2 separate regions of the Homo sapiens genome follow, and region 2 is linked to region 1. Evidence: fine-mapped expression QTL. Tissue or cell type: whole blood. Region 1 holds a variant in brackets; the other region holds the start of a gene. All regions are shown on one strand. Distances are from middle to middle.

Region 1 (8,110 bases):
ATCTATTCATAAAGCACTATAGTGTAGAGGTATTTTTATTATTAAATAATATATAGGGAGGGTTATATATGTGTTATACCTAGAAGCACCTCATTTAAATAAATTTTAAAATGTGTACACATTCCACCTCAGTTTCTATGAGGACCATCAGCACTGTTCTCGTTTCAATTTATTCAGGATTTACAAAATGAATAACGTAAGATTTATGGAAAATTTTAAGTAGTCTAGAGACCCACTGTTCTCAGCATAGAAACTAACCCTTAGAATAAGGTTTACTTATTAAAATAAGGAAGTAACTAGAGAAAAAGAATATAAAATAAAGTCCTTCACCTACTCAAACAAACACAAAGATCCACAAAGGATACTATTTGCAGAACTAACACCTCAGCAAGTATGACAGTAAGGGAAGGGATATCCTGGCCAATTACTCTGTGAAGTTCATAGTCATCAGGGTGGATTCATGGCCAAACACAGCAACCAAAGGCCGGTGTCACAGATCACCTACTCCAGGTAACAGAACTGTGCACAGGCCCTTAAACGTGAGGTCGGTCAAGGCCATCATCAGGAAGTGTGTTCTTTTACAGCAGTGTGCTTTGACAGGAAGAAATGTCGTTACTCAGGCATCTTAGGAAGCCATGTTAATCCTCCCCAGGTGCCATAATATGATTCCAGAAAGCTGCCTTTAATTTGGGGTTGGGGGAAGAGTGCTGACAACAACTGGCTACTGCTCTAAGCAGCTTCTCCCCTGGATGCACAAACAGAACAGAACTTGATAGTCTTCCTCCCCTGATTAATCCCACATTTGAGCCATCACTCATTACCTTGCTGAGTAGTAATTAGAAGGAAAAAGGGGAAAAGCTAGGGGTTTGGAATAAGCTTCAACATTATTAGTGTTTAACACTTCATCTTAATGCAGTGAGCTCAGACTATCATTACCCTCCCTGACACACTCAATATTCATACTCATCTCTAATCCTCTACCTAGGCTGTTTCTTTTTTTTTCTGACTTCTCCTCCAAATGATAAACAAATCAGGTCACTGCCCAGCTTAACTCAACATTGCCATCATCTTACTTTGTCTTCTCCGTTCCTAGCATCAGCACCACCCCTCTGAACACCTTATTAAGCACAGTCCTATGTCAATCCCAAATTATCTCGTTAGAAATGTGTGCCTCCAACAGGAGTAAGTCCCTCTAGGTTTTTAAGACAAAGTCTCTCTCTGTTCCCCAGGCTAGAATGCAATGGCATGATCTCAGCTCACTACAACCTCTGCCTCCCGGGTTCAAGCAATTCTCCTGCATCAGCCTCCCGAGTAGCTGGGATTACAGGCGTGCACCACCACACCCAGCTAATTTTTGTATTTTTAATAGAGACAGGGTTTCACCATGTTGGCCAGGTTGGTCTCAAACTTCTGATCTCAAGTGATCCGCCCCCCTCAGCCTCCCAAAGTGCTGGGATTACAGGCGTGAGCCACTGCGCCTGGCCAGACATCACAACTTGAGCAAAAATCACATTGTGAGCTTGATTAGGCACTCCCTTTCTACCCTGCTGCATGCAACACAACACTAGGTATATATGTCTGACTCAATTTGTTTGGCATTCTATTAATAGGGACGCCAAATGACTAGATTTCTACATTAATGCAATATTGATAATGACTTGGGGACACTGAAAATTGTTCAGAACCAAATGAAAGTTTAATTATGTTTGGCATTATTTTAGCAATTTAGTATATTAGATTATTTAGCAATTTAGCAATCTGGGTTATTAAAACACAAATAAAATTTAGCATTTTAACAAGTTTGGTTATTAGAAAAGTAATACTCCACAAAGGTAATTAAAGTGTGTCTCGTAATATGTGATCTTCCCCAGTACACCAATTCCCTGTATTTCCTGACCAAGATAAAAGCAGTTATTCGGATTTTCCCACCTATAACATATCTGAAAGATATAATAAAATAACACTTTCCATGGAAGACAACAAGCAACCTTAGAATGTAGACTACACATCCCGCGGGCACTTCTGCACAATCAGAATGTGAAGTTCCCTTTCCCAATCACAGTGAGGTTCTCAAAGAATGTTCTCTTGGAGAACTGCCAGTGTTTTGTGCTGCTATCTGAGGAAGCATTCTTGGAGGTGCCCATGAGCTAAAGCAGCAAAGGGCTCCGACTCTAAAACATTTCAAGCATTTTAATTTTTATTACAATTTAAACCATGTAAGCACAACCCTCAGAAAAAGAAAAACTCAATTAACAAGCTTTACTTTAAAGAGTCCATTTTTCTTCTAAGTATAAGCTGTGGGATGGCACCTTGCACACACACTCACATAAATTGATGTCAAGGCTCACAGGACCGCCATTCCTTCACCTCCTAGACTGCTGCATTTCAAAACTTATAATGTCTCCCTTTAGCTGCTTTAGGGACTTGGCATGAGATTTTTCAGCAGTCAGTTCCTTCAGCAAGGCCTGCTTTTGTGGAAAGGGTAAAATTTTATACGTACCAATTTGAGAAGCTGAATTTTTTTTTAAAAAGGGCAAGAGGAAATTGTTATAATTATAGAGACAGCTTTTGCATGCAAAATCAGTTTTCCTTGGGGAAATCTGCATACTCTCTATAAAGAATCCCCAGGCCAAAAGTACACATTATGCTTTTCAGCTCCAGTCTTTTTCAAAGCCATGCACTTGCCCAGGAATTGCATAAAGGGACAGTCTATGAATATGCTCCAGGCCTAGCCCAGATAAGCTGTTTATAAAACAAAAGACTTTACAAAGTTTTTTATAATATTTTAAAGACATATGGTATGCCTGAGGAACTGACCATTATCAATCAGTGTGAGACAATCAATAAAGAGTAGGGTATTTGGGCCAGGCACAGTGGCTCATACCTGTAATCCCAGCACTTTGGGAGGTCGAAGTGGGCAGATCACTTGAGGTCAGGAGTTTGAGACCTGCCTGGCCAACATGGTGAAACCCCATCTCTACAAAAATACAAAAATTAGCCAGGCATGGTGGCCCGTGCCTGTAATCCCAGCTACTTGGGAGGCTGAGGCAGGAGAACCACTTGAACCCAGGAGGCAGAGGTTGCAGTGAGCTGAGATCATCCACTGTACTGCGGCCTGGGCAACAGAGCAAGACTCTATCTCAAAAAAAAAAAAAAAAAGAGTA[G/C]GGTATTTGTTTCAACAGGTCTCCAAAACGTATCTAAACACTGTTCACAAAGATAATCACTGTAAAAGGCCTTCTCTTCAGATTCTTAACACTTCCAACTACATAATAAAAATTGGTCACAGTTGTTATGAAATGCTAAGAGTTAAGGATATTTTTGTGATAATGAAAGTAAAGCACAGGTAAAGGGACTATCCAAAATAAAGATCCATTTTTTTAATTTGGTCTAAATGTAAGGCATATTTGTCTTTGCTTTTAATTTTAGAAAAATTTTAGGTAATGAGCCTTGAAAAAAGGTGATAGTAATACTTCCACTAGTGGACTTTAAGACACATTAAATACATACTTCTATATACTTCATAGTGGAAAAAATACTTTGAGAAGGCAATATCCCATTTTAAATCAAAGTAATTATTTCTGTATGGAAGAAAATCCCTATGTTTTATGAGAGTTACTTGGAGCAGGCCATTCGTCTCAAAGAGGCTATTTTTATAATACAATAAATAAAATATTCTTAAATGAACTGCCCATCAATGGGAGAAAATTATCCATTTGTGTTAAAAGAAGTCTATTTTTGTCAGGTCTTTCCAAAGCAAACAAATTAGCAGTGGCTTTGGGAACTGTGAATCCACAGCCTCAACAGCAGTTGTCCAAAATTAAAGGTTTGTCAGAATGGGTGGGTGGAAGATGGAAACATTTCAAATGAGTATAAACATTTTATAACCCAGACAGAACCTTTCAAGAGTATCCCCACAGACTGAAATGATCTGTCACCTGGGCTAGGCCCCAGCTTCATAAATGGAACTTTCATAAATGGAATATTTTCAAAAATAACAATGAGAGAAAGCAACTCTTTGAAAAACAGATTTAAAGTAGAAAACATTCATAATATATTAAGTAGGAAAAGGAGGTTACAAAAGCATGAGATCTCAATTTCGTAAAACAAACAAAAACCAAATAAGATCCACACTGCCATCTGAAGAACACCACATTACAACATTAGTGGGTGCAGGGCCAAAGCCAGTTCTCTGTCCAATAACTTCCAGGCTTTGCCCAATGTACCTTCCCAAGTAGAGAAGAGTCATAGAGCCCTTTCAGGAAGCTCATCCCTGAGGGGGGTGTCTGTGACAAATCTAAGTCTAACATCGTTCAATCTGGCATTTTCCCAAACGTATATGACATGGAAAGTTTCCCAATGTCCCCAGTGACCCAGAACACCTATTAACATTCTTAGCAGCTCACCTTGGAAACAGTTTGAATAATAAATTGAATACCTGCTTAATGAATACAAGTAGTCAAAAAAATTGATGAAAGACCAAAAAGAACAACAGTACAATATCAAAAGTGGTGATTTGTGGGTTGTAGGATTTTGGATTATATTAATTTTCCAAATTTTCTATAACAAACATATTACCTTCATGATTATGAAAAAAAATACAGTATTTTACGATGCCTAAAGGGCTACACTGTTCATCTTCCTCTAAACTATTCATTGGTGAAGAGGACATTTGGTACTTCAAATGCCAACACACTAAGTTGGAGAAAAGGAGAAAGATCTGGCAATCTGTAGATTGCCACATGTAGACCATCTATAAAAGGCCAGCTATAAAAGAAACGTAGTCAGCTTAAATACTGTTCTCAGATTTCTGGTGTCCTATGAAAATAAATGAAGCAAGGAGTCCAGCCCTGGCAAAAGATGAAGGAGAACCTCAGCCTCACTAATTTCCTGTTTATTCTCTCAGATGCCAACCATTACACAGCAGCCTTTGGGAGAAATGTAAAATGTGTAGAGATAATCTAAACACTGTTTAGTCTTTTTATTTCCCCCACAAAAGACAGTGTAAATAGAGGAGAAATGATAGCTTACAAGACATTTTTATGAATCTGAGACAATAATGTATATGTCCATTGAAAGATGTTTAAATCCTATGTTTTAAAGATTCATATTTCATTGAAATAAATGCTAATCAGTGTAAGTTGTTATTTTCCATCAAAAATATATTTTTGGCATTTCTTCTTCAACTTTAATTTTTATTATATGTTTTAAAAAAAAAACAATTCCAGACAATATGGCTGAAAGGCTATGTTAGCCTTGACCTGTGCATTCATTTTCTATGCGGAGTTTCAAAACGTTCTACAAATTAACACTTTGCAAAAAATAGTTGAGTACTGTTTAGTAAAATACCCATTGCTTAATAATAATAATTTTAAAAAACTCTACTAACCTTCTCTGTGGGAACTTGTCCATAAACTTGAATAACAGATTCACAGAACATCAGGGCTAGAAGAAAGCTAAACTGGGCCTCCATACCCTTGACTCCCAATACTGAGGCCTGAATTGGTTAAGTGCCTCCCTCCAGGTCACACAGCTACTTAGGGACAACACAAAGCCAGATGACAATTTCCAGAAGACTGAGATTTTGAAGCTGTAACTGAAAACTCCCTGAGTTAATTAAGACAATGACTGCAGTTCAGTCCTGGCAAGAAAAAAAGGATAATATTTATGTGAGAACGAACTTAGTCCATCTGTGGCTGGCACACAAATCTTTCCCTTCACTATATTAGGCTTTCACTTTAACTTGTTCTGCCTGTCTTCCAAACAATTTTTGACTGATATCAGAAAACAAAAATCCTCCTGTTATTTCATGAGCCCAGCTTTTATAATTTGATAAGCACTAGAATATGTGTATTGTAGGTAAGTTGCAGAGGGGTGGTGGTAGGGAGTAGGGGAAAGGTTTATTAAATCAAGAAGCTATCATTTTAGGCCATTACGAAAAAAAAAAAAGCAATCATTTTATTTATTTCCCACACTCATGCATTACAATCCCACATGAATTGCCTACCAGTGAAAATTGTGAGATTCTCCTTCTCAAATAGGGAGACTGCTAAAATTCTATTTTAAAGTTTTATTGATATTTTTATTCATAATTTCCAGAGAAAGGACCAGAAGTGTGAGTTGGTTGTTTATTTTTGTTTTCTTTTGTTTTAATCAAATCAACTGCCTAAAGAAGAAACTGAAACTCCAGCACAATTCTGGTACTCTTATAGCCACACCATTTTATAAATGTTCAATACTTTAGACCCAGGGATACAAATTCACATCTCTGCTCTGAAGATCGTGCTATATTGTTTAAGTATCAGGGAAAGTATTCATCTATGAAAAATGTATACATTTTCAAGTCTATTCAGGCTAAAGTTAGTGTTAAGAGCAGCTAACACTTTTTTTTGGTGGGGGGCACCTTACATTTCTGGGACTCAATAAAGTTTACCAGGCACCTGGTTTTTCCTATGCAACCTACTTCAACTACCCCTTTCTCCTCTCTCTCTTTCTCTCTCTCTCTCTCTCTCTCTCTCTTGTTTTCTCTCTTCCTCTCTCTCTCATCACTCTGTATCTCTCTCCTGCAATTGGCTTTGCTTTCTCACTAGGCTTTTCCCCCATGTTATTCCAAGTTTGGGCAGCTGCACCTGGATCAACCAGCTTATATTTAAATTAAACTATCTGACAGGACATGTAAAATTGTCTTTCAGTAATTTTAATTCATTTTTCTTTCTTTTTTGGCTGCTATATCCAATTTTAATGGTAGGGAATATATTTGGCATTCTTGAAAAAAAAAAAGAAGATCTTGTTCCTTTTGAATTCTTAATAATAATTAGTATTATCATCATCATCATTTCCATGCTTCACAATTCATACCTCAGCAAGGAATTCAAGCTGACATGTTGTGCTGATCCAACTTTTGCACCAGCCTCCTGTTCAGTCAAATTTCAGTCCTCATCTTCTTTGACAGCCCCTCTGATTAATCCTCCCTCCTTGAAACACTCAGCAGGTGGATTCTAAGACGCCATATGCCCTTGGTTTTCCTCCTACTTCATTAGCTCACTTTATCCCTGATCTCTAACACTGATTCTTCCCTATCTCCCCACCCTCTAAGTGCCCTTAGACTCAGTCCTCTGAGTCTTGTCTTTGCTTCTTGTCCACATTCACTTTTCTAGTGACTTCATCCAGACTCACAACTCCCACATTTACACATCTTCAGCCTAGTCCCATCTGAATTCCAGACTCTTAATATCCAACTAACTCCTGGTTCTGTCTTCATTTTGGACACCTAATGGGAATCATGATTTTACATATCCAAAACCAACTCCTGATCTTCTCCATTCAAACCTCTCATAATGCAGTCTTCCCCATTCTAGCAAATAGCACTTCCATCTTTTCAATTGCCCAGGCACAAAACCTTGGAATCCCCTTCACCACCTCTTCCTTCCTCATACCTTACGTGGAATCCATGATCAAATCCTACTGACTCTATCTTCAAAAGAGATCGAGAATCTCACCTCTTCAAACCACCTCCATCCCTCCAAACCTCGTTAAAATCAATATCCCCCAATCTCCCTTGATTACACAGGAACATAACCTCCTGATTCTCCTTCTTCTGGACGTGCTCCCTCACAGTGTACTCTGAACTCAGCAGCCAACGTGAGTCTTCTCAAAAGTAACATCCCAGCACTCTTGGGTCCCAATTCTCCAAAGGCTCCCTATTCCATTTACAGCAGGAGTCGAAGTCCACACAGAAGACTATAAGACCCTCCTCCCTACGCCACCCTCCTGCCCAATCTCCCAGCACTCTCCTCATGTTCAATCCGGGGCTTCCTTGCTCTTCTTCAGAAACAGCAGGCTCACCTCTGCCTTATGGCATTGGCATTTGCTACCTCCCACCCCCAAAAGCCTGAGGAGGTCGCCCCCCACAGATGACATGTAATCCTTCCTTAGCAACTTAGGGCCTTGACTCAAAGACCACCATCTCAGGCCGGGGTGGGTAGGCTTCCCTGTTAATCTTTTCTAAAATGACAACACACCCTCTGCTCCCTATTCCCCCTTTTCTCTGTAATGATAATCAGTAACAATATGCTAAAATTTTGACTGTTGGTTGTTCCATCTTCCCCACTAG
Region 2 (8,110 bases), 400 kb before region 1:
GGCTCTTTCAATATTAATTTGGAACTCCTTTTTTGAAGAGGAGAATGATACTTAAAAACCCAACCCTTGTTACTGTATAAAACCTAGGCTGGGCATGGTGGATCCTGCCTGTAATCCCAAAACTTTCAGAGGTCAAGGTGGGAGGATCGTTTGAGCCCAAGATTTCTAGACCAGCCTGAGCAACATAGTGAGACTCTGTCTCTACAAATACACACACACACACATACATTTACAAAATTAGTCTGGCATGGTGACACATGCCTGTAGTCCCAGCTACTGGGGAAACTGGGGTGGGAGAATCTCTTGAGCCCAGTAGCTTACTCCAGGCTGTGGTGATCTATGGTGGTGCCACTGCCCTCCACCCTGGTGGACAGAGTGAGACCGCACTTCAAAAAAGAAAAAAAAAATCCCTAATAATGGAGATTCCAAAGACACAGAAGGAACAGTGACTTGGTTTTCCACATTTCACACGGGCCTGGCAAAGAATAAAACATCTTCCTCAACAAAGCCGGACAGATTGCTGGTCCTCTGGATGCTTGTCCTTACACACATACATCCCCTCTGAAGGTCTGCCTCCCATTGCTCTTTTTCTGACCTAAGTTTGATTTTTCCTTTTTCCTTTTTGGTCTAATTTAACTGGGGGACATCTTGCATCTAAACTTTGATGAAAAAGAAAAAATCCTCCTTTTACTGTGATAACAAAAAGGGGTGAAAAGGGAAAGATGACACATGTATTTTTATGTATTCAATAAAAATCCTTTCCCAACTCAGGTGCCTGGGTGATGAAGGGCCTCATTATGAGTGAAATAGACAACTTATAAAGAATAAAATAAATTTAAATGTGGTCTTTGACGGTGTCTGCAGATAGGAATATTGTTATTTGGGGGATGAACGCTCGTTTTGCCGAGGAGGATCTGGCTGAGTTGTCGGAGGGATGGGCCAGAAACGCTAGTAAATTATACATGGTGCAGAATCCACTGTCAGGTAGCTGCAGTCGATGACTGAATATCCCGTGCGAGCCATGCTGCCATGCGCAAAAAGACACTGAAGGCCATCACATCCTGACTGAAAAGGAAAGTCGCACTGCCCCCTTGCAGTTTTAGCGCATAAGAAACAAAACCAGGATGCGGAAGAAAATTAAAATGCAGCTTTGCCCTTCTCCGTGGTCCTTCAAAGGCCAAATCATAAGAGGTCGTTTTGAAGCACCAGGGAACGACAGGCCTTCAAGGGACTTCTTATCTAGGATCAGGCCACGGGTGACGTTTGGGTCCCCACGCCTGCGGTTCCTGGCGGATCTACAAGGCCTGAGACCCAGAAGACTCATGGGCGCTCCCGCCTCTTCCGCCCTAAAGAGCAAGCCGAGGGAAGACTTGGCCTGGGACCTCAAAGCGTGGGACGGTTTCCAAAACCTTGAGGAATTCTCTCTCCAAGCCTGTTCTGCGAGTTCCCAGGCTCCCTCCCCAGCCATGCCAGCCTCCACTCACCACTGACTGCGTCTTTGAAGTGGGTTTTCTCCGAGGAGTCGTAGACAAACTGCACTTTGCTCAGCCTCCAAGTCGCCTCAGGTCCCTTGGACATGTTGTGGCTTTCCTGTTGAGCCGGGGAGGTGCGCTTCAATCGTCCCCGCAGCGTCTGGGTTCTTAAACCTAGGGGCCGCCACTTCCCACACCCACGCGGAGCCTGCGGCCCCTCTGCCCGCTGGGCTCGGAGTTACCTTTACAAAGAGCATTTTGAGTGCATATGCGCGATCCACCCAGAACACTTGCAGCTCCGACTGGCTGTGGCCACAGCGGCCCTTCACCTCAGCTCCCCGGGTCAATGCGATATCGGCCTGTTCTGTGATCAGCTGGGAACACAGACGCCCCGCGCCCCCTCAGCTCGCCCGGCCCCGGGGCGGGGGCTGTAAAGGGCGGCGCGTCCAAACTCTGGGTTGCACGCTTGGGCGCTCCTTTGCGCGCGCGCATCCCAGGTTCCGGGAACATGCGGTTAGATGCTCTACGTGCAGCCCCGATAGGGAAGCGGAGAGAAGGGGGTTTACTTTCAAAGCAGGCAGGGGAACAGAAGGCATTACAAGCTGGAATCCCCATGCAGCATTCGGGAGCAGCCTGCCGGGGTGTGGGAAAGAAGGCGGGCAACCCAGGTCTTCGAAGAGCCTTGAGGAAGGGTGCCCTTCGCCCTGGAGCCCTAGGAGCAAGCTGAGGGGGGGGAAAGATTCCTTACATCTACGTAGTTGCTGGCCCACACATCATAAGGTACAATAAATTTGGCTGCAAACTCTGCCATGAGACACGTCGTCCCATTTTCCCGCACCACAAATATATCTTTTTCAGGGTTAGTGGAAAGGCCTGAGAGATTTTCCACTTCTTGTTCTGCCATGATTTGAGCCATTGTATCTGCGGAACAAACAAAACAATTCCATCAGTTCAGGGCTCAGCCCACGCGTCTCGGGCGCTAGGGTGGGGAGACAGTGCTCTGCAGGCTTTGGAGTGACAAAGTTCTCTGCCAGCAGCTGTGCGCTCTACGAGCCGTTTCTCTAACCCGGGTCTAACAAGCCTCATTCCTTCGCTGTTAATTTATAATGAAAATACAGTTAAAAAAATTAAAAATCCTGACTTTGTTTGTAATATAGCTGGCTGTTTTCTACATCTTGGGATTTTAAAGTAAATATTTCTTGCCAATGCTCTGACCTCACGAAGCTGGCCTGTCTAGGCTCTGTCTGGAATATGCCACAGAGGTGTATGGCTCTCAGGGGAATTCCCTGCCACCGGCGAGGAAGGCCCTCCCTCCTCCCCTAAAAGAAAAAAAGAAAAAACACCGCAAAACATTAAGGGCCATATTTTTTATCTCAAGCTAATTGACTTTACTTTGCCGGCTCTGTTCTCTGCAAAGAGTGCCCGTCCTCTCTCCCAGTCGCCAAATCGCTACTCACGGAACAACATCAGGAGAACTCGAAGTCTGTCGATGCTGGGGACCCCTCTTCCTTGGAGATCCATACTCGCAGTGCCCCGAATGAGGCCGGCTGTGCTGCTGCAGAGGCCGCCAGAGAGGGAATCCCTCAAAGTCGCCGCTGGAGTGGGCCGGGGTGAGCGAGAGGCGGGGGACAGAGAAGGGGGAGGGAGGGAGCGCGTATTCTGTGAGCGCCTAGCTAGGACTCGGTGTCGAGCGCGGCACCGACAGCTGCTGGCAGAGCAAATCGGCTCACTGCGGAGGAAAGGACCGCACGGCGGTCCACGGCTGCGAGTGCTGAAAGCAATCCGATTGTGTGGCAGGAGTGGCTGTGGCTTGGCTTGTGCGGAGGGCCAATGAGATCTGGGGGGACTAAACTTCTCCCTGGGTCTGTTTCCTGTTCTGCAACTGCATCCGCAAAGATGAGTCTGTTCTGAGAAACTTAATACCACCCTCAGCCTTATTAAATCTCCTTACCAGGTACAGTTATTAAGTGGTGTAGATACCTTATCACTGGAGTACTGTCTTCTGAAAACGCATCTGGTTCCCGAAAGAAAACGGTGGAGCAAAAATTGTTGCTGATTCGGGGGAGGAGGGCTATGCAGGAATAGAGAAGGGAAAATGCTATGGCAACAGTTTCCTGAATTTGGAGACATCCCCTTCTCTCCCCTGCTCTCAATGAGCTCATGGGTTTAAAGTTAAATTGACGCCTCCTCGAACGAGGCCATCAGACAATGCAGTAGCTCCATGTGGGCTTATTTTCCTGTGAATTTTGCTCCCGGGTGCATGAGGACTCTGAACTCTGGGGTCACCTACCCTCCCGCATTATACTGTGACCACTCTGCCAAAAAGGGATGCAAGCAAATCAGAAGTTTTTGAGAGTTATCTAGTGTCTCCTAGGACAGAAATTTTAGAATTATGCCCTAAGTAATGTCACATAGTTATGTAAGAAAAACACACACTGATATTACTCTAAAGCCTGTAGTGGAACAGAAGAACAAATACTACTGGGCTAATTCCTGTATTTACATATTTGGTAGCTTGCTTATTTTTTATTTTTGCTCTGTAAATCAGAATACAGCTTTCAAAAATACACATGCAGTCCTCATCAATTGTAGTGATGTCCAAATATTTTATTCCTTAGAAGATATTTCATAATGCAAATAAATGTTGCATCAGTAATATAATGTTATAAAACAATGTCATATTAAAGGGAAAATTGCAAAGTATTTCACCTGCATTATCTAATTTGATTCTCCCCAATCTTAGAGGGTAGGCAAGGAAAGATATGAGTTACTGTGGTTTTACATACCCCAAAACTGAGGCTCAAATAAATTAAATGACCTTCCCAAATGTCACATGGTCAGTTAGAATTAAAATACAAAAATCACATGCTTTAACTCTGTGAGATTATCTTCATTTCTCCTTATATAATATTTTTACTCCATATTTTGACTTCCATAAAAATCTATATTCAATATCAAATAATAATCTGAAATCTGAAATCTCTATCATTAATTCACATTCTTCAAATTTATAGAATGCTGTTTTAAGTATAATCACATTCTGACATATCTGCCACAAAGTATCTATATAATGTTTTTGGCTTTCAAACATATTCCTATATCAATCATTAGATCACTAGCAATTCAAAGTATAAAGTAATATTAAAATTGACATTATATTTTGACATCTTGACTTTTATGTTTGTAGTTCAGTATTTCATCCAAACATTTCTCAAGAACTTTACAAAGATGATTATATATAGAAGAATTGATGCAAATTTTACAGAACTTAACAGAAATGATTTTATACAGAAGATTGATAAAACGTCAGTTCTCATCAGTTGAAAGTGGAAGAGATAACATTTGTATGTGTTACATTTTTTCATGTTAGCAATTATTATTAAACACTTATTTTCCTGTAGTACTGTAAAACTGGAAAACAATGAGACATGTAATAAAGTATTTATTCTCTCTCTCTCTCTCTCTCTCCAGTATTTTATGAGGACAGAAATGAGTAGATTTCAGTCCAGGATTCACTACTTATTATTTTTGTGACCTTCTGAAGATTTTATTTGTTCTCATCTGAAAAATTGGGAAAATAACTCAGGGGATGGCTAGTTAAACCAAATGGGCCAATGAGTATAAATAAACAAAGTACAAATAGATCCATAAACATTAACCGAATACTTACTACTTCCAGTATGCTTGATGCTTTGAAAACCAAAAGATATTTATCATTACACAAGTAGGAGAGACACCTATAAAAGATTTTGACAATTTCTCTTGCAGTATGTTATTGCAGATATCTTCACTATATAAGTTGTTAAAAGATCAACTGAATTAATTCATGATTATCTGCCTTAATAATAAAAGATTAGGTGAGTAGTAGCATTGGTCATTGATCTTAAAATGTAGTAGTTGATTTACAAATGAGATGGTTGTTCCTTTGAAAATTATACCTGATATAAATGATCTCTTTGTTGACACTGGAGAGTGTACCCTAGAGTACTCAAATGGGTTGAAAGAAGAAAGAAAGCAATTTTAACTCTTTTTTTCTGGGGGGATTATTTTCAAAGCACAATCAGTTTAATGACTTTTTTAATATTTAATCTTAAACATGGCTAACAAATGCCCATTAATTTATCATCTTATCCACTGTGATACATTGCAATAGGAGTTAGGTCATTATACCTACAACTTTCACCTACATTAATTAAATATCTTTCTAATCATTCTGGAAAAAAACTCTTTGGTTCTCTAAAATAAGCAAAGAAGTGATCAAGGAGCAAAATTTGCCATTAAATTGCATTTTAATATATTAACAATGTTCCCCAGAATTTGCTCTACTTTTCATTTCTCAAGTCTAAAAGATGGTAGGAGAAATTGACATAAATATGTACACCTGTGTGGGTGGTAACTGTGTCAATTTTTATTATTGCTGCTGGTGGTCAGTAGAAACTGTTAGGGTGCAGTGTGACCTAAACACACTGGATTTGGGATCTCCTCTAGATCTTCTAGGTCCTTCAAAGGCTGTTTTTCAATTCATATGGATACTTACTGAATTAGCCTTTATGAATCTCATGCCATTGAGTGGTTGCTGTTTTATAAAAGGGCAAGAAGAGGCCCTTGCATAGAACTTTCAATTTGGATGAGAAGAATTTACATAAAGATTCCAGTTAGCCTAGCACAGTGTCTGCATAAATGTTCAGGGGGAAAAAAAAGTAAGACAGGCATCCCAGGTGGGAGAGTGGTTGAAATTGATGAAAAAAGGTCTCTTGGAGAAGGTGAGTCTTGAAAGAAGTTGACAAACTGATGTAGGGTGGAAGGAAGGATACGGATGGAAGAAATATCTATTGAATAGGGAATCAATGCAAAGATGTAACTCTTCATCCATCCATATTTATCCATTTGCAATAAAAAGCAAATTAGGCCGTAAATCAACAATGCCTTATGTACTATAGAACCCCTATTTCATTTCCGTATTTGATAATTTACCCACATATGGCATATGCAAAAGAATGGCCTATGCAAAATTTATTCTAAATAAAATTAAACTTTTTAAGTTGTTAGGGGCATCTTTTCATACTTGGTTGTGCAAGCAATTGACTTGTATTTGTAGAATCAAGAAACAAAACTATGAAAATTAGTGAACAATACTAATAAGAAAAGCGTATTTATAGCTTCAAAAGGAAAAGGCTGGGCTTTGTTGCAGCTGAAATTTGGTTTATTGAGGTTTCAGTTCACTTTACAGTAAAGTGTAAAAATGTACTCCTTGCTCTGTTGTTCCCACAGCCACCAAGCCATCCCTCTGCAACCCACACACAGACAACGGACGCACACCCGAATAACAGAAGCAGAAATAATTTAAACAAACAAGATGCATGCAGCTGTTAAGCCAGACTTTCTACTCACCAAAACTTTTCTTGTGTTCAGCTTATCATAGAACAATTAATTCATTTAGTCATTGCCTTCAAAGACCTTCGCAACCCTTTCTAGGATCTAAACTCTTGTGGGACAGAAACTGAAAAATAAATGTATGCACAAGAATTATTTTTCAGTTTCTATCCCACAAGGGTTTAGATCCAGAGCAAAGAGTACAAAAATAAGTGTGCGCATGAGCAATGTATGCACAAGAATATTTCGCACATACATTGCTAAGCCCTAGAATATTTGGAAAGAATCAGAAAATTGAGTTTAGGCTCCAATGCACTCAGTCTGCATGCCCTTGGTGTAATTTTCCTCATCCTAGTGCTTCTTTGGTGTCTCCTGCATCTACTCTAATGAAACAATGGTTATTTCTGCAATAACGGTAACCAGTGGAGGAAACAAACCACCAGAATAACGGCCTTTTTATTGGCTATGTTCACACTAAGTCCTGAAAAAAATACCATTTATGAGTTCATTTAGAAGAATTGCCTTCAGCATGGGGCAATATAGAGAACTGCATCCTTATAGCAAACCCTAAATAAGTAAATGGTGAGGGGCCAGGTAATCATTCCTCAAAATTTCAGTAGCAAATAAATCATTTTTGTCTTTTGAATCCGTGATTAGTTAACTGTTCTGGTCAGTCTTACATTTTTGGTCAGTGATACACAACTCACTCTGCTATCTCGGGAGGGAGGAAAACCTTGTTAACTTCTGGGCAGGGCACCTTTCTGTAAGGTTGAATTAAAACTCATTTGAGGATTTTAAAAAATCTTTAATGAGTCTGTTCTCCAAGAAATGACATCTGTCACAATAGGCCTAAGGTTAGACTAGCTGTGTCTCATTTAACATATTTTGCTACCTGAATTCTGTGATAATGCAGTACCCTCAAAATCTCTGAGATGGCACAGGAGTCCATTGTTCCCTTGGTTACTACTCTCTCTCTCTCTCTGTTTTTTTTTTGTTTTGTTTTGTTTTGTTTTTTTTTGAGAGTCTCACTCTGTCGCCCAGGCTAGAGTGCAGCGGTGCAATCTTCGCTCACTGCAACATCTGCCTCCTGGATTCAAGCTATTCTCCTGCCTCAGCCTCCTGAGTAGCTGGAACTACAGGCATTTGCCACCATGCCCGGCTAATTTTTTGTATTTTTAGTAGAGACAGGGTTTCACTATTTTGGCCAGGCTGGTCTCGAACTCCTGACCTCGTGATCCGCCTGCCTCGGCCTCCCAAAGTGCTGG

The links. PIP is the estimated chance that this variant, and not a neighbour inherited with it, causes the effect.
Region 2: it holds the start of LAMP5, and the variant in region 1 is fine-mapped to the expression of LAMP5 in whole blood (INTERVAL, PIP 0.98).

Annotation. Positions count from the first base shown.
Region 1 is chr20:9,107,306-9,115,415 of GRCh38, reverse strand. All of the region lies in intron 2 of PLCB4 (phospholipase C beta 4), which reads right to left. Among named protein-coding and RNA genes, the nearest start is that of PLCB4, 42 kb to the right of the region's middle. The variant G/C (reference allele first, on the strand shown) is at 3,165.
Region 2 is chr20:9,509,736-9,517,845 of GRCh38, reverse strand. LAMP5 (lysosomal associated membrane protein family member 5) reads right to left here and starts at 3,256. Exons shown (of 6, transcript NM_012261.4): 1 at 2,930-3,256; 2 at 2,221-2,393; 3 at 1,715-1,846; 4 at 1,485-1,590. The coding sequence starts at 2,993. LAMP5-AS1 (LAMP5 antisense RNA 1) reads left to right here and starts at 2,848. Exons shown (of 5, transcript NR_109957.1): 1 at 2,848-3,082. RefSeq lists enhancers at 1,737-2,321, 6,640-6,689.